Homo sapiens: one gene and its partners. The protein of the gene in region 3 interacts with the protein of the main gene of each other region in a biochemical or structural test. Each region holds a gene or a part of one and is shown on either strand. Other genes may lie near its edges.

Region 1 (3,500 bases), on a different chromosome or scaffold from region 3:
AGAAGCATTTCTCCAAAAGTAGGAGTCTTAATCATGTCTGATGTAGGTTGAGTGTGGCCAGAAAAGGGGCTGTTAAGTATAGAGGGCCTGGATTATGAAAATCCAGCAGATCCATTGAGAGTTTAAGCAGCAAGGTGTTGTGACCAAGTTAACATTTTAGAAGGATCACTGGTATGGAGGTTGGATTGGAGAGGGGAAAGCCTAAAGGTATAGAGACTAGTTAGGAAGCTATTGTAGGCTGGGCATGGTGGTTCATGCCTGTAATCTCAGCACTTTGGGAGGCTGAGGTGGGAGGATTGCTTGAGGCCAGGAGTTGAAGACCAACCTGGCCAACATAGCAAGACCCCGTCTCTGTTTTTCTTAATTAAAAGAAAAGTCCAGACGTAGACATAGTGGCTCACGCCTGTAATGCCAGCACTTTGGGAGGCCAAGGTGGGCAGATTGCTTGAGGTCAAGAGTTTGGGATTAGGCCAGGCGCAGTGGCTCACGCCTGTAATCCCAGCACTTTGGGAGGCCGAGGTGGGCGGATCACAAGGTCAGGAGATCAAGACCATCCTGGCTAACACAATGAAACCCCGTCTCTACTAAAAGTACAAAAATTAGCCGGGCATGGTGGCGGACGCCTGTAGTCCCAGCTACTCGGGAGGCTGAGGCAGGAGAATGGCATGAACCTAGGAGGCGGAGCTTGCTGTGAGCAGAGATCACGCCACTGCACTCCAGCCTGAGCGACAGAGCGAGACTCCATCTCAAAAAAAAAAAAGAGTTTGGGATTAGCCTGGCCAACATGGCAAAACCCCATCTCTACAAAAAGTACAAAAAAATTAGCTGGGTATGGTGGTGCGCGCCTGTAATCCCAGTTACTCAGGAGGCTGAGGCATGAGAATTGCTTGAGCCTGGGAGGTGGAGGTTGCAGTGAGCCCAGATCATGCCACTGCACTCCAGCCTGGATGACAGAGTAAGATGCCATCTCAAATAAAAATTAAAAACAAAGTTTAAAAAAAAAATAGAAGCTATTACCGTGATCCAGGTAAGAGATGTGAATAACTACAATGATGGAAAGAAGGCAGAGTTCTTAGAGATGGGAGTAGGAGAGATGAGGGAACTCCAGATTGGGAAGATGATGTTCAAGTTTCTGGCTTAGGCCACAGGGTGAGTGGCAATTCCCTTCACTGAGATGGGGCATCCTGGAAAAGGTGTTGCCTTTCTGTGTGGGTATCCTGGGCCCCTTAGGGGCCACTGGTGGCCTGGGACCTGGTAAACCTTCCCTGCACAAGCAGAATTGGTCAAGCAGGTTTTTAGGACATCTTTACCCTGCCTCAACTCTTGTCTGGCCCAGGGTCAACCGGATGCACATCAGTCCCAACAATCGAAACGCCATCCACCCTGGGGACCGCATCCTGGAGATCAATGGGACCCCCGTCCGCACACTTCGAGTGGAGGAGGTAGAGTGTGTGTCTAATCTGTCTTGTGAGGGTGGGACATGGAACAGATCCTCTGAGAAATCAGGCTGTAGCCTTTACCTTTTCCTACCCCCAGCCCATCTCTTTGTCTTAGCATTGAGCCTGTGACCACTGGTGACCTATTTCAGCGTAACAGGTTCCCAGGGTAGCAGGGATGGTTGATGGACGGGAGAGCTGACAGGATGCCAGGCAGAGGGCACTGTGAGGCCACTGGCAGCTAAAGGCCACCATTAGACAAGTTGAGCACTGGCCACACTGTGCCTGAGTCATCTGGGTTGGCCATGGGTGGCCTGGGATGGGGCAGCCTGTGGGAGCTTTATACTGCTCTTGGCCACAGGTGGAGGATGCAATTAGCCAGACGAGCCAGACACTTCAGCTGTTGATTGAACATGACCCCGTCTCCCAACGCCTGGACCAGCTGCGGCTGGAGGCCCGGCTCGCTCCTCACATGCAGAATGCCGGACACCCCCACGCCCTCAGCACCCTGGACACCAAGGAGAATCTGGAGGGGACACTGAGGAGACGTTCCCTAAGGTGCCACCTCCCACCCTGGCTCTGTTCTGTCCTATGTCTGTCTCTCGGATGAAGCTGAGCTGGCTTTCAGAAGCCTGCAGAGTTAGGAAAGGAACCAGCTGGCCAGGGACAGACTATGAGGATTGTGCTGACCCAGCTGCCCCTGTGGGGATCACAGTTTACAGCCAGAGCCTGTGCGGACCCAGCTGTCTGCCAGGTTTCCTTAGAAACCTGAGAGTCAGTCTCTGTCCACTGAACTCCTAAGCTGGACAGGAGGCAGTGATGCTAAACCCTGAAGGGCAACATGGCCTATGGAGAAAGCATGGAGCTCAGAGCCTGGAGTAGGGGCACAGATAGGATTGAATAAATTGTGTAGAAAGACTTTGAAAACAATAAAGCAAAAGATGAATGAACGTTTTTTTTAGACTTGAGGGACCAACAACCCCCAAACCCCAGATTCTGCCAGGTCCATGGGGAAGGAGAAGTTGCCTTGAGTGGAAGCCCCAAGTAGGGAGACTTACAGAAAAGAAGTCAAGAGCACTGGCTCCCAGGCAGAAATACTGATACCCTACTGGGGCTTCAGGCTGAGCTCCTCCCTTCACAAATCACTTCATCTCTCTGAGCCTGTTTCTGCATCTGTGACATAAGATGGTAAGATAAAGGTGGCTGTCTCACCAATTATGTAAGGATTAAATGTGGAAAAGGACATAAAGTTGTATAGTGCTGCCATAGGGACAGTGTTCAGTAAACGTGACACATTCTTAGTATCACTAAGAATCAGGTTCTTGGCCAGGCACCGTGGCTCATGCCTGTAATCCCAACACTCTGGGAGGCCTAGGTCGGAGGATGGCTTGAACACAGGAGTTTGAGACCAGCCTGAGCAACATAGTGAGACACTGTCTCTACAAAAAAAAAATAATAATAATAATTGTTTTTAATTAGATGGGCAGGGCACTGTGGCTCACACCTGTAATCCCAGCACTTTGGGAGGCCAAGGCCGGAGGATTGCTTGAGGCCAGGAGTTCAGGAGCAGCCTGGGCCACATTCCTGTCTCTACAAAGAATAAAAAACTTAACTGGGCATGGTGGCACATGCCTGTAATCCCAGCTACTCAAGAGGCTGAGGAGGAGGATTGCCTGAGCCCAGGAGTTCAAGACTGCAGTGAGCCTTGATCACACCACTGTACTACAGCTTGGGCAACAGAGTGAGACCTTGTCTCCAAAAAAAAAAGTTTGTTTTTTTTTATCCACTCTCCTCACCAAACAAACTGAGTAAGTTAGAGCCCTCTCAGCTGGCATGTGTTGGAAACAGTGCCCTCTCATTAAAGTGCTGCCCTCACTCCCATTGCCTCTTGGCCTTGGTCAGTATGATGAAATTAGTGGGAGGCAGGGCAACAGAGGGCAGGGAAGAGCTAGAAATCCATGGCCTGGAAAAGGGAAGATTTGGGAGTGGCCAGGTATCTGTAGAGCCACCATGCAGAGGAGGGGGGCAGCTAGCCTTGTGTGCTCTGGTGGGCATGGTCAGCAG
Region 2 (3,500 bases), on a different chromosome or scaffold from region 3:
TTACAAATCCTTTTAAAGACACACTGAATTTGAAGAAAATTTAGACTAGGGTATTGTTAATTGAAAAGCTGCTTTTTTTTTTCTTTCTGTTTTGAACTTCAATGAAATACAAAGTACAGTCCTAGAGAATAGTGAACCATGTTCTAGGTTTTCTACTTCTGTTAATGTGCCTAATTCATTTGCAGAGTGAGAGTAGAAAAAGCTTTAGGCACAGACAGGAACCTTGAGCTTCCTGCCTCTACCACCTGTCACAAATGAATTTGGATGAAACTATTTTCATGATCCCTTTCAGCACCAAAATTTGGGGTTTCTTTAAGGTTTAAGACGAACGCATTAGAGTAATGAAAATGCCTGTCTGACTGGGATGTTTATATTTTTCATGATTATGTCATTTCTTTGCCTTGGCCTATAGTAAGTTTGTATGTGAATGCTTTGCATGAGGGTCATAGCTACTTGGTTTACCTTGAAATCAATGATTCAGAAATTGCTTTTTGTGTTCCAGTTGCATGTAGCTGTGACTCCTTTTAAAAGTGTGGTAACAATGTGGTAGGAATTTAAAAGCTTCCCAACTTTAGACATAGATTATTTTGATCCTTTCTGAACTGGATTCATAAACTTTGGTTCCAAAGAACAGCAGCTGTAGAAGGGAGCCAGATCTTGACTCACTGTTGAGGTTCTGCTTCTTGAGAGATTTCATATTTAGTGCAACCCAATTCCTTGGTTCGTTCTTCTCCCCCAGTACTAGATAGCCAAGTTGGGTGGTAGGAAGGAAGAAAATATGCAGCAAGTCGAGTCTAGTTGTCATGCTCCTTTGGGCCAGAAAGGACCTTAAAGATTGTCTCGTCATGTTGTTCCTATACCTTTTGTTTTCGTCTACCTGTAAAATGAAAAAAAAAAAAAAAAGCAAATATTAGGGATTGTCAGATATGTCAGCATTTAATGTTGCTACATAAGTGTGTTTAAAATTGACAACAGCAGTTACTACCTATTGTCAATGCATTTCGTCAAAATCCTTTTGATGTACCAAAAAAGAGAAAAGGTGGGGAAAGGGGGAAGAATATGTATGCTGTCAGACTTAAAGGAGAGTTCTTCCTATCCAGAGAGGAGCTGTGTTAAAATTACCCCACTCGTGGATTTATATCTATCCCCACACAGACACTTTTTTCTTTTGCATGGGTCAATGAAAAATTCACTAAGGACCGGGGTTTAGAAATCACTGAGTAGCTCAACTAACCCTTCTTTGATATTTGGATCCTTTTATATAATCTCTGTAAGTGGTCTTCCGGTAATACCTGAACATTGCAAGTAACGGGTGGTGATTTCCACCTTTTAATGGTTTTGAGTACTAGAAAGTTTTTTGGCCTATAGAATTGAAATCTGATTCTGCTTGTTTATTCAAATTCTACTGCCTTGGTGGCCTACAGAACAAATCCTTCAGTCTCTGTCAGAGTTGGGCTCTTGGTGTAACGTGACCCGTGAACATGACCTGTGTAGAGTACAGCAGGAGTGTCTTGTCATAGGTTGCATGTTGCTTGCACTGATGTAGTCCAAGTTTGCATTTACTTTTCTGGTGGCCAGACTCAACGAGTTTCCTTTTCGCTAAAACCTGCCGAGCCGTTAATCACATGCTGCCATTGAACCTCGTCTTTCCATCTTGCGCTGATGTCATTGCAAAACCTAACATTTATTGCGCTGTGGTTTTGCTTTATTTTAGCTGATTCTTTCCATCATGCTTTTTAGAATTTGATTATATTATTTGGCACCTTTACCTGTCCTCCCAAAGAAATGCTGTCTGTACATTATTAGATCAGACTCTTTTATATCTTTACTTAAGCCGGTGATGAAATTGTTAAACTGGCTGAACAACACGAAGTGTGTCTCTGGAAGCTTCCCTCGAGGCTTACAAGGAGTCACACTCTCGGTTATAGTTAACTACTAATGCTCTTCATATCTTATAACTAGCCCATATAGCTCCACCTTTCCACATGGATATCCTGAAAGAGTGTGTCAAACCTCCTTTGCTGGTTCTACTGACCAAGTTATGCTGAGTAATAATGAGTTCATTTTCAGTGTGTCCCTAGTAACGAGCACTCTCTTCTGCATATGATTAAGAAAATGTGTTAAATGACTGACTGGATTGAGACACTAGGGTCACACTGTGATCTGTGACCTCCGGAGGCCTTAGGAACTGCAGTGCTTCTAGGAAAAATCAGAATATTGTTGGACTTTCTTCAGCTTATTTTTTGGTTTGGTATTCTCTTGTGTTGAATTGCTTTCAGATAGTGGGGAAGAACACCACAGTCTCTTCCGGTTTTGTTTTAATTGGTTGATATACTTCTCTTCCTATTTTACTAATAAACATTTAGCCAAAAGGGGTGTCTTGAACTCTGCCCATTAGATTACTCCATATTTTTCACTTCTACATATTTGCTTAATCTTCTGAGAAATATCCCCATTTAGTTGAGTTCCTCAAGAAATCAGAACAGTCCGAAGTAAGCTATCTGGTAGTTTATTCAAACTCTTAAGTAAAAATATCTAGGTAAAGAGCCAGTGTTAAAAATTGTTATTGTGGAAAGTAAGAACTCCTGGGTGAATAAAAGATTATGTCTGCTGAGATGAACTATTGTGTGGAGTTTTAAAAGAAAGTTCTGGTTAATGCTTAAGACATAGTGTCCTGTGAAGTCAGCATAACTACTTTCACTGTCTTCTGGAGGTGGTTTTGATAACACATTTGGTTCCTTGTTGAACAGTGGGTATTCACATTGTTCAGGAATAGCTTTGGGATACTGTCCTCTCCGTATTGAAGTTTCTAATAAGTAATTTTAGGAATTATAGTTTTGATTCTTTGTACAGGGCAAATGCTACCTGTTTCAGGTGTTTAAATGGCCTAATGCAAGAAACAGTGGTTTCTTTTTAGCAGGTTCTCAAGGTTCTCAAACTTTTTTCAACGTGCATCCCATCTATACACAATTGTCTAAGTGTTCATGTATGTATGCGTATACATGTATACATATCTGCATGCACGTTTGTGTGTGTGTATATGTATAATATATCTGTATGTATAAACATATACTTTACTGTGCTAAGATATTATGGACATAAAACAAATGTACATTTTAAGAAGATTAATATTAAAAATAAATAGATGTAGAAGTATTTTCTCTGCATCTCAAGGGCATTTGTATCTTTGAAATGTGTGGCCCCTGTGTAGAGACCACTGTTGTACTATCACTGGTTAGAGTTTATAGCAGTTGAGAAATGGAATTTCTAGGGAGCCTGTAGGGTCTTGTGAGGCAAGCGGAAGACAAACTCCACTCTTGATGGGCCTTATATTTACTGTGTATTTATTCTTTTTCCCGAAGACATTTCTGACTTTGGCCTGTTTTCTTCCAGAATTGCTTGTGGGTCTTGGTTTGGGGTTTCATTTATTGAGGGGTAGGAGGTTAATGTAATGGCGATGCTATTCTCCTTAGAAAGTTTCTAATTGAACTCAGCTGTTT
Region 3 (3,500 bases):
GTAATTCCAGCACTTTGGGAGGCCAAGGCGAGAGGATCACTGGAGCCTAGCCTGGGTAATATGAGATCTTGTCTCTACAAATAACAAAAAAAAAATTAGCTGAGTGTGGTGGCACATGCCTGTGGTCCCAGCTACTCAGGAGGCTGGGGTGGGAGGATTGCTCAAGCCCAGGCAGTGAAGGCTGCAGTGAGTCATGATCACACCACTGTACTCCAGCCTCGGTGACAGAGTGAGACTTTGTCTCAAAAGAAAAAAAAAAGAATTCTCCAATTATAATTGTGAAATTGTGGATTTGTCATTTTCTTTTTGTAGTTCTGTTTTTGCCTTGTGTGTTTTGATGCTGTTATTAGGTGCATACATATTTAGGATTGCTACATCATCTTGATGAATTGAGCCCTTTATTGTATTGAAAAGACCCTCTTTATCTCTAGTAATATTTTTTGCTCCAAAACATACTTTGTCTGATATTAATATAGCCACTCCATCTTTCTTTTGATTAGTGGTAGCAAGATGTGTCTTTTCCCACTCTTTTATTTTGAACCTATTTGAGTCTTTTCATTTAAAGTTGGATTCTTGTTGGCAGCCTACTGTTGGACCTTACTTTTTGTTCTTATTTGACAATCTTTGCTTCTTAGTTGAAGTGCTTAGACCATTTACTTTCAATCTGATTATTGATATGGTTAGATTTAAATCTACCATTGTACCATCAATTCTTTTCCTCTCTTTTCTCCTTTTCTGCCTTCTTTTGGACTTAGTATTTATTATTATTACTCCATTTCTTTTTCCTCTTGCCCTTCTCCTCCTCCTCCATCCTTGCTAATTGGGTGTAATTCTTTTTTTTGTTTTGTTACTCCAGTGGTTGGTTCAGGGTTTATGGTATACATCTTTAATTCATCAATCTGTCTTCAGGTGACATTACACTGATTCATGGATAGCCTAAGAACCTTCCATTTCTCTCCTCCTGAACTTTATGCCATTGCTGTCATATATTTTATTTAAATCAAAGTTATAAATCTCACAATACATGATTATTATTTTTTACAGAATTTAGACATTGAGAAAAATTCTATATATTTACTTGCATAGTTAAAATTTCTGATCTCCTCCATTCCTTTGCATAGGTCCATATTGGCTTCTGATAGGCTTTCCTAAACATTACTTATAGTTTGGGTGTGTGGGTGATATTTCCTTTCACCTTTTGTATGTTTGAAAAAGTTTTTATTATGCCTTAAAAAGCCAGCATTATTGAGATATAATTCACATGCCACACAATTCACCCATTTAAAGTATACATCAATATTTTTTAGTACATTCCTAGAATTTTGCAACCATCACTATACTCAATTATGGAACGTTGTTGTCACCACAAAAATAAACCCCCTACCCATTAGCAGTCACTCCCTATTTCCTCCAACCCCCTTAGCCTTAAGGAATCACTAATATGTTTTCTGTCTCTAGATTTGCTTGTTCTGCACATTTAGTGTAAATGGCATCATATAATATGTGAGATTTTGTGACTGGCTTCTCTCACAGCAGAATGTTTTTAAGGTTCATTCATATAGTGGTATGTTTTAGCACTTCACTCTTTTATGTACAAATAATATTCTATCACATGGGTATACCACATTCTAGCCATTCATCAGCTGATGGACATTATTTCATCTTTTGGCTATTATGAATAATGCTGTTATGAATCTTCATGTAAAAATCTGTGTGTGAACATGTGCGGTATAAATTTAGGAGTGGAACTGTGTAGTCATATGGTAACTCTACGTTTAACATTTTGAGAAACTGCTAGACTAGTTTCCAACGTGGCTGCTTCATTTTACATTCCAATCAGCAGTAGTATATAAAGGTTCCAATTTCTGCATGTCCTCACTGACACTTTTTTTTTTTTTTTCTGAGAGAGGGTCTCATTCTGTTGCCCAGTCTGGAGTGCAGTGGTGCAGTCATAGCTCACTGCAACCCCGGACTCCTCAAGCCATCCTCCCACTTCAACCTCCCAAATGTCTGGGGTTACAAGTGTGTGCTATCACGTCTGACTGCCTTTTTGATGATAGCCATTCTGGTGGGTGTGAGTGGTATGTGATTGTGGTTTGATTTGCATTTCCCTGATGGTTAATGATGTTGATTGTCTTTCATGTGCTTATTGATCATTTATATATATTTTTGTAGAAATGACTATTCATATCCTTTGCCCATTTTTAATTGCTTTATTTTTCCCTTTATTATGGAGTTGTAAGAATTCTTTATGTAACCTGGGTACAAGTCTTTTATCAGATATACAACTTGCATATATTTTCTTTCATTCAGTGGGTTGTCTTTTCACTCTCTTGATGCTATCCTTTGAAGTACAGAAGTTTTAAAATTTGACGTGTCTAATTTATCTATTTTTCTTTTGTTTCTTGGGTTTTTGGTGTCATGTATAAGAAGGCTTTTTCTCACACAAGGGCACAAAGATTTTCTCCTGTATTTTTCTAAAAGTTTTATTTATTTATTTTTTGAGACAGAGGCTTGCTTTGTTGCCCAGACTGGAGTGCAGTGGCGCAATCTCAGCTCACTGCAACCTCGGCCTCCCAGGTTCAAGCTATTCTTGTGCCTCAGCCTCCCGAATAGCTGGGTAATCTAAGAGTTTTATAATTTAGCTCTACATGTAGGTCTTTGATGCTTTTTTTTTTTTTTTTTGAGACAGAGTCTTGCCTTGTTGCCCAGGCTGGAGTGCAGTGGTATGATCTCCGCTCACTGCAAGCTCCGCCTCCTGGGTTCACGCCATTCTCCTGCCTCAGCCTCCCCAGTGGCTGGGACTACAGGTGCCCGCTACCTCGCCCGGCTAATTTTTTGTACTTTTAGTAGAGACGCGGTTTCAGTGTGTTAGCTAGGATGGTCTCGATCTCCTGACCTCGTGATCTGCCTGCCACGGCCTCCCAAAGTGCTGGGATTACAGGCGTGAGCCACGGCGCCCGGCCTGTGATCCATTTTGAGTTAATTTTCGTGTATGAGGTGAGAAGGGTCCGACTTTATTCTTTGGCAAGTGTATATCCAGTTGTCGCAGTACCATTTGTTGAAAAGAGTATTCTTTCTCTGGTGAATTGTCTTGGTACCTTTGTAGAAAATCAATTTATCATAAGTGTGAGGGTGTATTCCTGGACTCTGAATTCTATTCCACTGGTCTATTTATCTAACCTTATGCCAGTACCATGCTATCTTGATTACTGTTGCCATGTTGTAAGTTGTAAGATTGGGATGTGTGAGTCCTACAACTTTGTTCTTTTTTTTTTTTTTTTATTTTTGAGACGGAGTTTCATTCTTGTTGCCCAGGCTGGAGTGCAATGGCGCGATCTCGGCTCACCGCAACCTCCGCCTCCCGGGTTCAAGCGATTCTCCTGCCTCCTGCCTTGGGAAGCCTCTCCTGAGGCTTCCCAAGTAGCTGGGATTACAGGCATGCGCCACCACGCCCGGGTAATTTTGTATTTTTAGTAGAGACGGGGTTTCTCCATGTT
Region 4 (3,050 bases), on a different chromosome or scaffold from region 3:
AAAATAGTTGTGATTAGCATGCTGTTTTGCATGTGATTCACATGGTAATTTGCCATAAAACTGCCCAGATCCTCTCGCCACCTCTTTTGTTTCTGTTTTGGATTCCGGCCTTTCATCCCCTTCTTATAGCTTGCCCCTCTTTGTCCCCTCCCCTCCACTCTTCCCACCCTCAGCCCTGCATTCTCGCCAGGCCTGTCTGTTTTTCTCCAGCTGGAAATACTGCTGGCTAACCTTGGCTTCTATGCACTTCCTATATAGTCAGCCCTCTGTATCTGAGGGTTCTGCATCCACTGATTCAACCAACCGCAGATCAAAAATATTTGAAAAAAAGAAATATGTCTATACTGAACATGTACAGATTTTTCTTGTCATTATTCCCTAAACAACACAGTATAACAACTATTTACATAGCATTTACATTGTGTGAGGTATTATAAGTAATCTAGAGAGGCTTTAAAGTACATGGAAAGATGTACATAGGTTACATGCAAATACTATGCCATTTCGTATCAGGGACTTGAGCATCTGCAAGTTTTGGAATCTTCAGGAGTCCTAGAGCCAATCGCCCATGAATACCGAGGGACAACCGTGTAGAGCTGGAAAAGAACTTGATTTCAGTAAGCATAACAAGCCCTATCCCTGTTCCTCCAGGTCTGATTGTGCTGGCCACAATCACTCCTGAATCATCGCTGGACTCAGGTCATGAAACCAACTCTTCAGAGCTCACAGACATGTCAGAGATGATGTCGGCCATGAAGCAGCACCAGAACACCACCTACTTCCTGGCCCAGCACCTCAACAAGGACAGCCTCCTTGCCCGCAAGGACCTGCCCTTCCGGATCCAGAGCTGTGCAGCCCAGGCCGTTCTTACGGCCCCTTACTCTCTTGGGCGCCCGGATCCCAACCCATCTCTCCAACCCATTGCCACAGGCCAGAGTCCTGGCCCCCCTGGCGCTCGGAGGAAGCTGCCCCAGTCAGAGGGCCAGGTACAGGGAGAACGAACATACTCCTTGGCAGTGCACCCAGCACTGTCCCCACAGCTTAGTGAACAGAAGAATCTGAGTCTGCTGTCCCCAGTTCCTGAGGACAAAGGGCCTGGCCACACTAGGGCAGGCCTAGAAATGTCACTGAGGGCAGCCACATCATCCCTCAGTGAAGAGCAGGTCTCTGAGCTGAGGGACAACCTGCCCAAGGAGGTCAGGTTGAGCCCCAAGCTTATCCTCGACCCAAAGAGCAGTGTGACCCCTGCCATCATCTCGGCCGCCCTACAGCAAGTGGTTCACAATAAGAGTCTAGTCACTGCTGGTGGGGCTTTGGGGAACCCCCCCAGCAGGGGTGAGAGAAGGCTGGAGGCCAGCATGGGGAGGCCAGAGGTTAGCATGATGAGCAGCAGTGCCAGTAAGAATCTGAAGTTCAAAATTAGCCCCAGTGCTCCAGAGACCTCATGGAATTCTCAACATCAGCTGGGTGCAGAGGTCTCTTCCAGCCCCAGAGCACCCACAGGCAGCCGGGCTGACAGCCTGCACCTCTCCCAACAAGAGGACAGTCTGCCTGTTCAAAATTTCCCTCCCAAAAGCTATCTTTTGCGAACAAGCCGAGAGTCAGTGGGCAAGCAAGCTACAGGGGAGGTGGCAGGCAAAGGCGGGCCAGTGGGTGGTAAGCCCACCCTGCAGAAGCAGGGCACCATCTCCAGCCAAGGGGAGAAGGCGCAGCTGGAGAGCACACCCAAAAGAAGCAAGCTCGAAGAGACCAGCCTGGTTCCCCGAGCTACCTACCCCATGGCTCTGCAGAGCCCCAGCTGCCAGTCAAGAAGCCACAGCCCCAGCTGCCAGCCTCATGGCCACAGCCCCAGCAGCCAGTCTCGAGGTCAGAGCCCCAGCTGCCAACCTCGAGGCCAGAGCCCACTGAGGTCTCAGGCTGCCAGCCGGCAGGTGAGCACCATGCCCTCTAGGAAGCTTGAAACAACTCTCAATGGAGCCCACTCGACCTCTGAAGGCCCTGCCAAACCCAAGTCATCCCGAGGTCCTTTCCGGCTACGCAATTTATTCTCTGCCACCTTCCCAACCCGCCAGAAGAAGGAGACAGATGAGCGGCAGGCCCAACTGCAGAAGGTAAAGCAGTATGAACTGGAGTTCCTTGAGGAACTTCTAAAGCCACCAAGCCAGGGGGAGCTGCCAGGCACCGAGTACCTGCAACCTCCAGCACCTGGCCGCTGCAGCTGCCAGCTCCGCAGCAGCCCTGTGCAGCAGGGGCCTGGCATGTCCCGTGAGCAGAGGCGCAGCTGTGACTGCAAGCGCATCTGCCGGGGGGGCCGGCCACAAGCCACCCAGACACCAGTGCCCAGCCTCCGGGGGAGGGAAAGGGACAGAGTCCTCCCTAGCCAGAGGCAGCCAGAGGCTGGCCCAGGCGTGAGCCTCAGCAGCCCCATCAATGTCCAGCGCATTCGTTCTACCAGCCTGGAGTCCCGAGAGTGCCGATCGGACCCTGAGAGTGGTGTTTCGTGCCTGACCACGTGTGCCTCGGGGGGCGAGTGTCTGGGAGCTCCCAATTACAGGAAACTGATGCGCCGCTACAGTATCAGTGAGCTGGACCAGGGTGACAGGGCCTCGCTGACCTCGGATGTCTACCCACATCCTCCCCTGGGCATGCTGCCCAGGGAGGCCAAGGAGGTAGAGGCAAGCCTCCCCATAGCCTTGGGTCCCAAAAGCAGGTCTCTGGAGTCACCGACGCTGGGAGACCCCTCCTACGTCCAGGTTGCCCCAGAGACCAAAGGCCCCAGACAGATGGCCGTGTTCTCACTGCCCGAGGAGGTGTACCGGAAGCCTGCCGAGCTAGACGAGGACAGTGAGAGCAGCAAGTGCTGCTCCATCCGCTACTGCTTCTACTACCGCAAGTGTGACATGGCAGATGATGCCAGTGATGGCAAGGATGAGCTCTCCTACTCTATCCCCATGAAGATCCTGCCTGGCATGAAGCTGGACGAGCAGGTGGTGCCTGTGGTGAGCAGGACCCTGCAGGTGCTGGATGCTGCTACCTGCAGCAGCAGCAGC
Region 5 (3,500 bases), on a different chromosome or scaffold from region 3:
GTGAGACCTGCCTCAGCCAGGCTGCAAAGGGATTGGCATGTTGGCTGAGAGGCTTGTGCCCTCTGGAAGATGAACCTCCCTCCTCAAAGTCCGCAGCCGAAGATTCAGCTTCCTGGGGAGCCCTTTCTGATAAGAAAGTTCTCTTCTGAACACACCCGACACCTGGGCTTCCTCCCCATTTGTGTGATTTCTTTAGAGAGAGTGGCAGTTTACAACCATAGGAAATTAGGAAACCATGGGCCATGTGTTTGCATGTGCTTCTTTTATGCTAAAATGATACTGTTCTACCACTGCTTTCCTCTTTTGCTTGGAGTAGCTGAGCAGCTGGGAAGTAATGAGCCATACTTCGTATCAAGTTCCAGTATTAGCTTTGCCTGACAAACAACTTGGGGGCCAACCCTTGAGGATGATAGCTTTGTAAAAACATGTGAGAAACCACAACTTATTTCACTCTTACGTGGATGTGAAACCCTTCAATGAGAGGCAAGGTCAAGTTCATCCGTGCCCAACTAGACATGCTGCAGAGCTCATCTCAGCTCACAGAGAAGGACCTGAGCATGGATTTGGAAGCTCCATGCTCTTCAAGATCTGGACTCCTATCCGGCACTCCAGCACCCAAATTTGTGGCTTCTATTCCCAAGGTTACTTCGTGGTCCTGGTTAGCAGCTGGTGTTCCAACCATCATGCTTACCCCCAGGTGACAGGGAGGAAGAAGGGAGATAATGCTAACCGGGGAGTTCCAATTTCAGATGAGCCAGCTTTCTCCTTCCCAGAAGTCCCACACTACTCTTCCATTTTATTGACCATGATTTAGTCACCTGGCTACACCTAGTTAAACGAGAGTCTGGGAATTAGGATTCTTTTTAAAAAAAATTTTAGCCCTTAGTCTGGATGGTTCTTGCCCCAAAGAGAATCAAGATTCTGCTGGAAGGGAAGAGGGAGATAGCAAATCTTGTAGTTTCTCCTGTATCTCTTACTGTGTACCCGCATTAAATCTTTACTGACAGTAACAGGATAAATTCCATTCTAAACATTCTTTACATGCAGAAGGCTCTTCGGGGAAGGAACCCAAATGCCTGTTTGTTTTTGTTTTTGTTTTTGTTTGAGACAGGGTCTTGCTCTGTTGCCCAGGCTGGAGTGCAGTGGCATGATCTCGGCTCACTGCTACCTCCGCTTCTCAGGTTGCAGCGATTCTCCTGCCTCAGCCTCCCAAGTATCTGAGATTACAGATGTGTACCACCATGCCCAGATAATTTTTGTATTTTTAATAGAGATGGGGTTTCTCCATGTTGGCCAGGGTGGTCTTGAACTTGTGACCTCAGGTGATCTGCCCACCTGGACCTCCCAAAGCGCTGGGATTACAGATGTGAGCCACTGCACCCGGCCCCAAATGCCTGTTTTTATTTGAGATAAAATGGTGAAAGGTTAAGGTAGTAAAAGCAGTTGATGAGAGGTCCTGTCATTCAGAAACGCCTCTGGTTCAGAAAGCAGTGCTGCAGGGCAGAAAGAGCACTGGCATCCAGGATCTGCCTCTGACCTGCTGTGACACCTCCAGCAAGTTGCTTGCCTTTCTAAGCTCTAGTTTCTGCACAGATCCATTGAAGCTAATAGCCAGGACCTCATGGGATTGTTTACAGGGTTAAGTAAAGCCACGTCTGTAAACTGCCAGGTGCACAGTGAGTAAGGCCCCTCCCTGAAGGAAGCTTGGCTACAGCAGTATTTGGTCATAAACCTTGAAGACCCAACACAAGCTGTCTCATTTTGGGTAAAATTCAGCTTCTAGACTAGGAGAAAGGGGCCCTTGGTTCCTCACCTTCATCTTGTTCTGGATCAAATTCCAAAACTTGCAGGCAGAAGAAGCCGTTATATTAAGAAAAATGGTGAAATATACTTAATATAAAATTTACCATCTTAACAAATTTTAAGTGTACAATTTAGTGGTATTAAGTACATTTATGTGATTGTGCTACTATCACCACCATCCATCCATAGAACTCTTTTATTTTGCAAAACTGAAACTATTCCCATTAAAGAGTATTTCACCATTCCTCTCTCCTTCCAGCTCCTGGTAACCACCCTCCTGCTTGTCTCTATGAATTTGACTACTCTAAATACCTTGTATAAGTGGTGTCATGCAGTAGTTGTCCTTTTGGTCCTGGCTTAGTTCACTTAGCTTAATATCCTCGGGGTTCATCCATGTAGCATGTGTCAGAAATTCTTTCCATTTTAAGGCAGAGTATTATTCCGTTGTTTGTGTATATTACATTTTATTTATCCATTCATCTGTCCATTGAAGGAGACTTTCAATGATTGGAGGTTTGGAAGGAGCAGTCATGGGCTGAGAAAACACAGTGGTGGCCAGAGGCTCTGAGATGAGAAAACTGGAGACTAGTTCAGCAAGTACCGAGGCTCGTTTTGGCTGGTTACCCAGGGTTCCAGGTGAATCCTTGGGTGATCTCGAGTTAGATATGGGGGACCACCAGGTGCAAGGTTAAGAATCATGAGCTTGATTCTAAAGGTAGTGTGAAGTCATGCAAGGTTGTTGAGCAGTGAAGTGGACAGAAAAACAGCTGTGGTTTATTTAGCTAATTTTCACTTTTTTTCCAGAAATATTTGGGATACAGGGTTCACTGTAAGAAGAGAAATTTGGAAATTTTTGTAGTTGCCTGGAGTTCAAAGGAAGCTAGTATTTTCACTATAAGCTAGTTGAGAAGAAAGGAAGAGAGATTTCTCTGGATTCGCAGTGTTGGCTGGATATGTGAGAGAAAAAACCTTGAAGCCAACAGGTGGCACTGTAGGGCTGAACAGGCCACAGTGAGTCTTCTGTTGGGCAGGCAGCCTTCTCCCCCAAGCTGTGCCCAGTTTTATCCAGGTCAGGTCTCTTCATTCTAGAAAAAGATGTGGATTCTCCTACCTAATGGAGATTTCATGTCCCTCCTGGCTTTTTCTCATTCTACCCTTTTGCAGCCTCTCTTCTTTCCTGGTGATTTTTCTATGGATTGAGTGGATTCCAGGTCTTTAAGTGTGAAATGTGAAAAGCCCATTGCATAAGAGAGCCCGACCTCATTGAGCTGGTTCTCAGCCCAATCAGTGCCTTTGCAAACTGCCCAGGTATGTAGAGATGCTGCCATTTCCTTCTTGTCATGGGCAGGCAGCCAGATGGCTTCATCAGCCAGAAAATGAGGGAATCCGTTTGGGATGCTTGAGGCATGATGCTTAGAGAAGATGCCCACCCAGGCCCTTCTGAGATCCCTCTAGGAAGGGCCAGGATCAGGGTGAGGTGAGGGAGGCACTGCTTTGAGGGCAGAATTTTTTTTTTTTTTTTGAGACCTCTGTCGCCTAGGTTTGGAGTGCAGTGGCGTGATCTCGTCTCACTGCAACCTCCGCCTCCCGGGTTCAAGCCATTCTCCTGCCTCAGCCTCCCAAGTAGCTGGGACTACAGGCACGTCCCACAATGCCCGGCTAGTTTCTGTATTGTTAGTAGAGATGGGGTTTCACCA
Region 6 (2,465 bases), on a different chromosome or scaffold from region 3:
TTTTTTTTTTTTTTTTTTTTTTTTTTTTGAGTTAGAGTCTCGCTCTGTCACCCAGGCTGGAGTGCAGTGGCACGATCTGGGCTCACTGCAACCTCGGCCTCCTGTGTTCAAGCGTTTCTCCTCCCTCAGACTCCCAGGTAGCTGGGATTACAGGTGAGCACCACCATGCCCAGCTAATTTTTTTTTTTTTTTAAGGTATTCTTAGTAGAGACAGGGTTTCACCACGCTGGCCAGGCTGGTCTCCGATTCCTGACCTCAGGTGATCCACGTCGGCCTCTCAGAGTGTTGGGATTAGAGGCGTGAGCCACCGCACCTGGCCTCCAGCCAACATTTTAACCTCTCTGTGCACCTGTTTCCTCATCTAGGACACAGGGTGGATGGTATCAGACTTGGTGGCACAGGGCGGTGGTGAGCACTCAATGTGCTCAGCCCAAGTTTTGGCACATAGTAGTTGCGTGTCTTTTTGAACTTGACCTATCTAATTTATATATTTTATTTTTTAAATTTTAGAGATAGGGTCTTGCCCTGCTGCCCAGGCTGGAGTGCAGTAGTACAATCATAGTTCGTTGCGGCCTCCAACTCCTGAGCTAAAGGGAGCCTCTCATCTCAGCCTCCGGAGTAGCTGGGACCACAGGCGCGCACCACCACCCACACCCAGCTAATTTTTTTTCATTTTTTGCAGAGATGTGGTCTTGCTATGTTGCCCAGGCTGGTCTCTAACTCCTGGGCTCAAGTGATCCTCCTGCCTTGGCATCTCAAAGTGCTGGGAGTACAGGCGTGAACCACAGCGCCCAGCTGTAGTTGGGTGTTTAACAGTAACAAATGTGTATGTAGCTCTTAGTGTATATGCCTCAGCATCTTCTTCCACACCCTCTCTAGGTCAATGTAAAAATCTATGAATCAATGACATCTCTGATTAGAGTGATTTTCCTGGGGTTGTGCAGTACCCAACCTGCTCAACTGTCCATGGCAGGCTGCATACGGAGCAGCCACTGTACTAAGTCCTTTACGTACATGAACTCATGGCTGTGGCCCTGTGAGGACTTGCACAGATGAGAAACCCAATTCCCCTTTTGCTGACAGGCTAGGAGGTCTCAGCTAAGGCCTTCCCCTATCCCAGCCTCAGTTTTCTCATTTAGATTTGGGGATGACCTGCAGACTTGTCACGGGGTTAGCAAGTGGGCAGCATGGCCCGGGCCAAGGTGGGGGATGGGATGGAGGTGGTTATTGATCTCGACTCACCATGCTCTGGGGGGAGTTTTGAAGCTCCTCTCTCCCTCTCCTCCAAGGTGGACAGCCGCCACCCCCAGGGACAGTGGCGACAGGACAGCATGCGGTAAGAACCCCATATTCCAGATTGGGGCCCTCAACCCTTCCCTTGGGACTCAGACTCTGCGGACTCAGATCTAGATCCAAGCTATGCCTTCATGGTGCCCCTAGCCTAGTGGGGAAGACAGAGCCTGCCAGAGCCTCTCTAAGCCCCATATAATCAGGGCCAAGGGAGTAGGAATCCACTTCCTGGGAGGCCTAGGAAGGCTTCTTGAAGGGCAGGATATTGCAGCTGGGGCTTTGAGGGATGCATAGGAGTTTGTTAACAAGGCCCTACCCATGAATGCCCAGATGTGCTTATCTCTGCCCACACCCACTGTGCCTAGCACAGCCAGCCTCAGTTTATGGTGAGAAAGCTCACACCCTTCCCACCCACAGCATCTATTCTATTTCCTGATCCCCAGAACCTATGAACGGGAAGCCCTGAAGAAAAAGTTTATGCGAGTACATGATGCGGAGTCCTCCGATGAAGACGGCTATGACTGGGGTCCGGCCACTGACCTGTGACCTCTCGAAGGCTGCCAGCTGGTCCGTCCTCCTTCTCCCTCCCTGGGGCTGGGACTCAGTTTCCCATACAGAACCCACAACCTTACCTCCCTCCGCCTGGTCTTTAATAAACAGAGTATTTTCACAGCACCGGCTTCTAGTGGCTTCCAGGAAGGACAAGGTCCTCGGTCCCGTAGACCCTGATCCGAGACTTTGCCAAATGCATAAGCTTTTACTGTTTTTATATTAGGAAATCATACAGGACCAAGAACCGCTGGGGTCCTGGCCAGCCAGGGCAGGCCCAGGATGGGGCTCCGGGGCCATGGAGGCGAAGGCACAGTGGCAGGCAAGGGATGAGGTGGTCACAGGTACACGGGCTGCTCCTGGCCTGTAAGGAGGCGATATGTGGCAGCTGGCATCGTCTTGATATGCACCTGGGGAGTGGAGGCGGAACGGGGCTCAGGGCAGGCCTGGGCTCGTGGGGGACGTGGGGGCGCCCCTGGCCACCACCCACCACCCGCACACCTCGCCATAGGCCTCGGTGAGCAGCTCGATGATGCGGGCGTGTGGCGTGGCCACCACACTCTGCCCATTGATCTCAATGATGCGGTGGCCGACGCGGATGCCCCCACGCTCGGCGATGCCACCAC
Region 7 (3,500 bases), on a different chromosome or scaffold from region 3:
CATTATCATCAGTAAAGACACCACAGCTAAAGAAGTAGTTTTTCATGCTGTTCATGAATTTGGTTTGACCGGTGCATCCGACACATATTCTCTCTGTGAAGTTTCTGTTACTCCTGAGGGTGTCATAAAACAGAGAAGACTTCCAGATCAGTTCTCCAAATTAGCTGATAGAATTCAACTCAATGGAAGGTGAATAAGCTTATTAGTGGATGTGCTTATTTGTAGATGTGCTTTTGAAGATTTCCTGTTAAAACAGCTATTGTAAGTAGAAACATTATCATGTTTTAGTGCTCCTAAATTCACTCCAGAAGACGCTTGATAAAATATCTTGTCACTCCTGCTAAAATAAACTCTTAGAACCACTGATATAATCTAGTTCCTGTTTTTTTATAGAGGAAGCTGAATGATACAAATCTTCATATATATCTGAATGACTGTATCTACTAATTTATAAATTTGTTTTTAATATGGCCAGTATGTACTTTGGCAAAAGAAGCCATGGTTTTCACAGTTCTTTTTCTAAGTAGTTTTCCTTTAATGAATATGCAGGAAAATTTTAAAAATTTTAAAATGTGTTCTGAAAATTATTTAATAAACTAGATTATTTCTGTAGTACATTTGTTCCTTACTCTGGTTTTTTTTTTTTTTTTTGAGATGGAGTCTCCCTCTGTCGCCCAGGCTGGAGTGCAGTGGCGCGATCTCAGCTCACTGCAACCTCCACCTCCCAGGTTCAAGCGGTTCTCCTGCCTCAGCCTTCTGAGTAGCTGGGACTACAGGCACATGCCACCATGCCTGGCGAATTTTTGTATTTTTAGTAGAGACGAGGTTTCACCGTGTTGGCCAGGCTGGTCTCAAACTCCTTACCTCAAGTGATCTGCCTGCCTCAGCCTCCCAAAGTGCTGGCATTACGAGTGTGAGCTACCACACTCAACCACTCTGAGAATAATCTTTTTGGTAACCCAGTTTCATATGTAGAACAAGATCCCTAGAAAGCTTACAGTGACTGCATGCCATGGTTGCTGTGAAATGAGAATGAGTTAACTCTGTTTTGCTGGCTGTACATAGTGGTTAAGAGCATAGACCCTGGATTCAGATTGCCCACATTCAAATCCCAGCTCTGGCTATGTGACCTTGAGCAAGTCATATGTAGCTTCTCTACCTGAATTTCCTCACCCATAAAATGAGGATAGTAATAGTAGAATATACCTCATGGGAATGTTGTAAGGATTAAATGAGTTACTAAGTATACCATACCTTATAATGTTAAACATTATTATATATAGCATAATGAGTTTCAGCACTATTATTTATGGCATTGTCTTAGGCATATGAACAGTCTAAAAGCAGAAAAAAGAGTTTCTTGACAGTAAAAAATAGATGGATAGATGGATACAAACTTAGGCTTAAATCAAGTTGGATTATTAGAAAAGAACGAAGTAAAAGCAGGTGATACATTACCTCGTTTCCTTAGTAACATCCCTGCACAAGATGTTTCCTGTCTCTTACTTTTAAGTGCTGTAGAATTGTTGATTTAAGAGAAGAAAGCAAAATATAGGTCTTAATGTGTGGTAACTGATAAGTGCCACTTGCTGGAATGAGGTTTTGTATTTAACAAGGGAGAAACCATTAGTGGAAGTGTTTCCCCTCCTCTGTAGATTTCATTCCTCTTGCTTCACTTGGAAATTTATTTAAAAAGGAAGTGAGTGGAGTAACTTCTGAATAGAGATTTTTAACCGTCTTGATTCAGGAATTTATTTTGCCTTAATTAGAATTCATGCTATTCATAAACAAATATTTACATAGTACCAATCCTCTGTCAGATAAAACAGTAAGATAAAAGCTTTACGAGGGCAAGGCCAGTACCTAAAATAGTATCTGACAGATAGTTTCATAAAATAATTAAGTTCATGACATAACAACATTATTTTTACTCTTTAATAGATGCCAGTTGGTAGAATAAGAGACAGACTTCTCAAAAATCTTTTCATTTAAAATGTTAACTTTTCATTTTATCTGTAAATTAATATTTTTGGCTAAAAGTTATTAACAGTAAAATGATATTTTACAACGACAAAAAGGAAAAGTGCTCTTATTTAATCATATTTATGAATACATTTATTTAAAAAAATTTTTCCATTTAGGTATTACTTAAAAAATAACATGGAAACAGAAACCTTATGTTCAGATGAAGATGCTCAAGAACTAGTTAAGGAAAGCCAGCTATCCATGCTGCAGCTCAGTACCATTGAGGTGGCCACCCAGCTGTCAATGAGGGACTTTGATTTGTTTCGTAATATTGAACCGACTGAGTACATCGATGACCTTTTTAAGTTAAATTCCAAAACAGGAAATACTCATTTGAAGAGGTTTGAGGACATTGTAAACCAAGAGACATTCTGGGTTGCCTCAGAAATTTTAACTGAAGCAAATCAGCTCAAACGAATGAAGATTATTAAGCATTTTATTAAAATTGCACTTCATTGTCGAGAATGTAAGAACTTCAATTCCATGTTTGCAATAATAAGGTAAGTTGGTACAAATAGGTACAAATGTCTGTATGGTTTTGTCATTACATGCAGCTGATTTTCTACTTAGGTATTCAATGCCTATGAAAAGAAATGTTCAATTAATATGCCTTTATTGAAGTGTTGTTAGATTTAATGTATTTTCCATTTTGGTGGTATTGGCTTTTTCTATTTTTGTTTCTTCCATCTTTCTTTTACTTCTTTTTTGTAAATGAAAGTGGGTGATTGCCTTCTAATTTTTCTTTCTCTCCCTTCATCTCCAACCCCCCGCCTTGAGTGATTATATCATCTTTGGATATGTGCCCAGTGGCTGGTCTTTATCATTAGACTTCTGTACTGTGCTTTTTTAAGTACCTGCCTCACTATGATTTGACTCTGAAAAATCACAGTATGGTATCAGTACTTTGACCTAAAGTTGCTATTTTGAAACAACAACATTGATAATAATGGCAACCATTTGGTAAGCTCTTCCTGTTTGCCAGGCACTACATGAGGTTCACTGGATGTGGTGTTCCTCAAGCAAGTTAGGCTGTTAGAATAATAAAAATGTTTTGACATTCATAAGCCCAGGAAGTGTAGATAATTACGTGAGCTCTCCCACTCCCTTCTTCCCACTTATTATGAAAAGTTAATTGTAGGTAATTTATTTTCTGATCTTTATTTAGCACACTGTAGATCAACAAAGGGATTCTTCTTAAAACAAGTTTAATTTTAAAAGGGAGAGGAGTTGTAGTTAGCTCCATTTTTAAGGCCATGATGTGCTTATAAATCGCAGCATAATTCCACTTGAACTAATCCTACCTATACACATCCCCCACAGAATTCATAATGATTTGTTTCTACTCCTCATGTAGATTAAGATTAAAAAGTAGAATCTTTATAGGGACTCTTTATTCATGACCCTGTCATGGTAATAGGATGTGCCTTTATTAAATTAACCAGTGTCTACAACTGAACTGAACACTCTAGGAGTAT

Evidence for each region.
Region 1: the proteins of RAMP3 (region 3) and LIMK2 interact in a test that uses a peptide from one of them, tested with the Homo sapiens proteins (one large-scale study listed by IntAct).
Region 2: the proteins of RAMP3 (region 3) and SIPA1L2 interact in a test that uses a peptide from one of them, tested with the Homo sapiens proteins (one large-scale study listed by IntAct).
Region 4: the proteins of RAMP3 (region 3) and FRMPD3 interact in a test that uses a peptide from one of them, tested with the Homo sapiens proteins (one large-scale study listed by IntAct).
Region 5: the proteins of RAMP3 (region 3) and PDLIM1 interact in a test that uses a peptide from one of them, tested with the Homo sapiens proteins (one large-scale study listed by IntAct).
Region 6: the proteins of RAMP3 (region 3) and TJP3 interact in a test that uses a peptide from one of them, tested with the Homo sapiens proteins (one large-scale study listed by IntAct).
Region 7: the proteins of RAMP3 (region 3) and RAPGEF6 interact in a test that uses a peptide from one of them, tested with the Homo sapiens proteins (one large-scale study listed by IntAct).

What each region holds. Positions count from the first base shown.
Region 1 is NC_000022.11:31,260,798-31,264,297, forward strand, and holds part of LIMK2 (LIM domain kinase 2), read left to right. Parts: intron 1-1,336; coding exon 1,337-1,442; intron 1,443-1,797; coding exon 1,798-1,994; intron 1,995-3,500. UniProt on the Homo sapiens protein: Serine/threonine-protein kinase that plays an essential role in the regulation of actin filament dynamics. Acts downstream of several Rho family GTPase signal transduction pathways.
Region 2 is NC_000001.11:232,623,634-232,627,133, reverse strand, and holds part of SIPA1L2 (signal-induced proliferation-associated 1-like protein 2), read left to right. Parts: intron 1-3,500.
Region 3 is NC_000007.14:45,164,291-45,167,790, forward strand, and holds part of RAMP3 (receptor activity-modifying protein 3 precursor), read left to right. Parts: intron 1-3,500. UniProt on the Homo sapiens protein: Accessory protein that interacts with and modulates the function of G-protein coupled receptors including calcitonin gene-related peptide type 1 receptor (CALCRL), calcitonin receptor (CALCR) and G-protein coupled estrogen receptor 1 (GPER1).
Region 4 is NC_000023.11:107,599,652-107,602,701, forward strand, and holds part of FRMPD3 (FERM and PDZ domain-containing protein 3), read left to right. Parts: intron 1-651; coding exon 652-3,050.
Region 5 is NC_000010.11:95,242,504-95,246,003, reverse strand, and holds part of PDLIM1 (PDZ and LIM domain protein 1), read left to right. Parts: intron 1-3,500. UniProt on the Homo sapiens protein: Cytoskeletal protein that may act as an adapter that brings other proteins (like kinases) to the cytoskeleton. Involved in assembly, disassembly and directioning of stress fibers in fibroblasts.
Region 6 is NC_000019.10:3,748,849-3,751,313, forward strand, and holds the end of TJP3 (tight junction protein ZO-3), read left to right. Parts: intron 1-1,289; coding exon 1,290-1,336; intron 1,337-1,733; coding exon 1,734-1,836; 3' UTR 1,837-1,965; downstream 1,966-2,465. Other genes in the region: APBA3 (amyloid-beta A4 precursor protein-binding family A member 3), read right to left, coding at 2,057-2,249, 2,341-2,465. UniProt on the Homo sapiens protein: TJP1, TJP2, and TJP3 are closely related scaffolding proteins that link tight junction (TJ) transmembrane proteins such as claudins, junctional adhesion molecules, and occludin to the actin cytoskeleton.
Region 7 is NC_000005.10:131,460,730-131,464,229, reverse strand, and holds part of RAPGEF6 (rap guanine nucleotide exchange factor 6), read left to right. Parts: coding exon 1-189; coding exon of another isoform or gene 190-193; exon of another isoform or gene 194-617; intron 618-2,141; coding exon 2,142-2,525; intron 2,526-3,500. UniProt on the Homo sapiens protein: Guanine nucleotide exchange factor (GEF) for Rap1A, Rap2A and M-Ras GTPases. Does not interact with cAMP.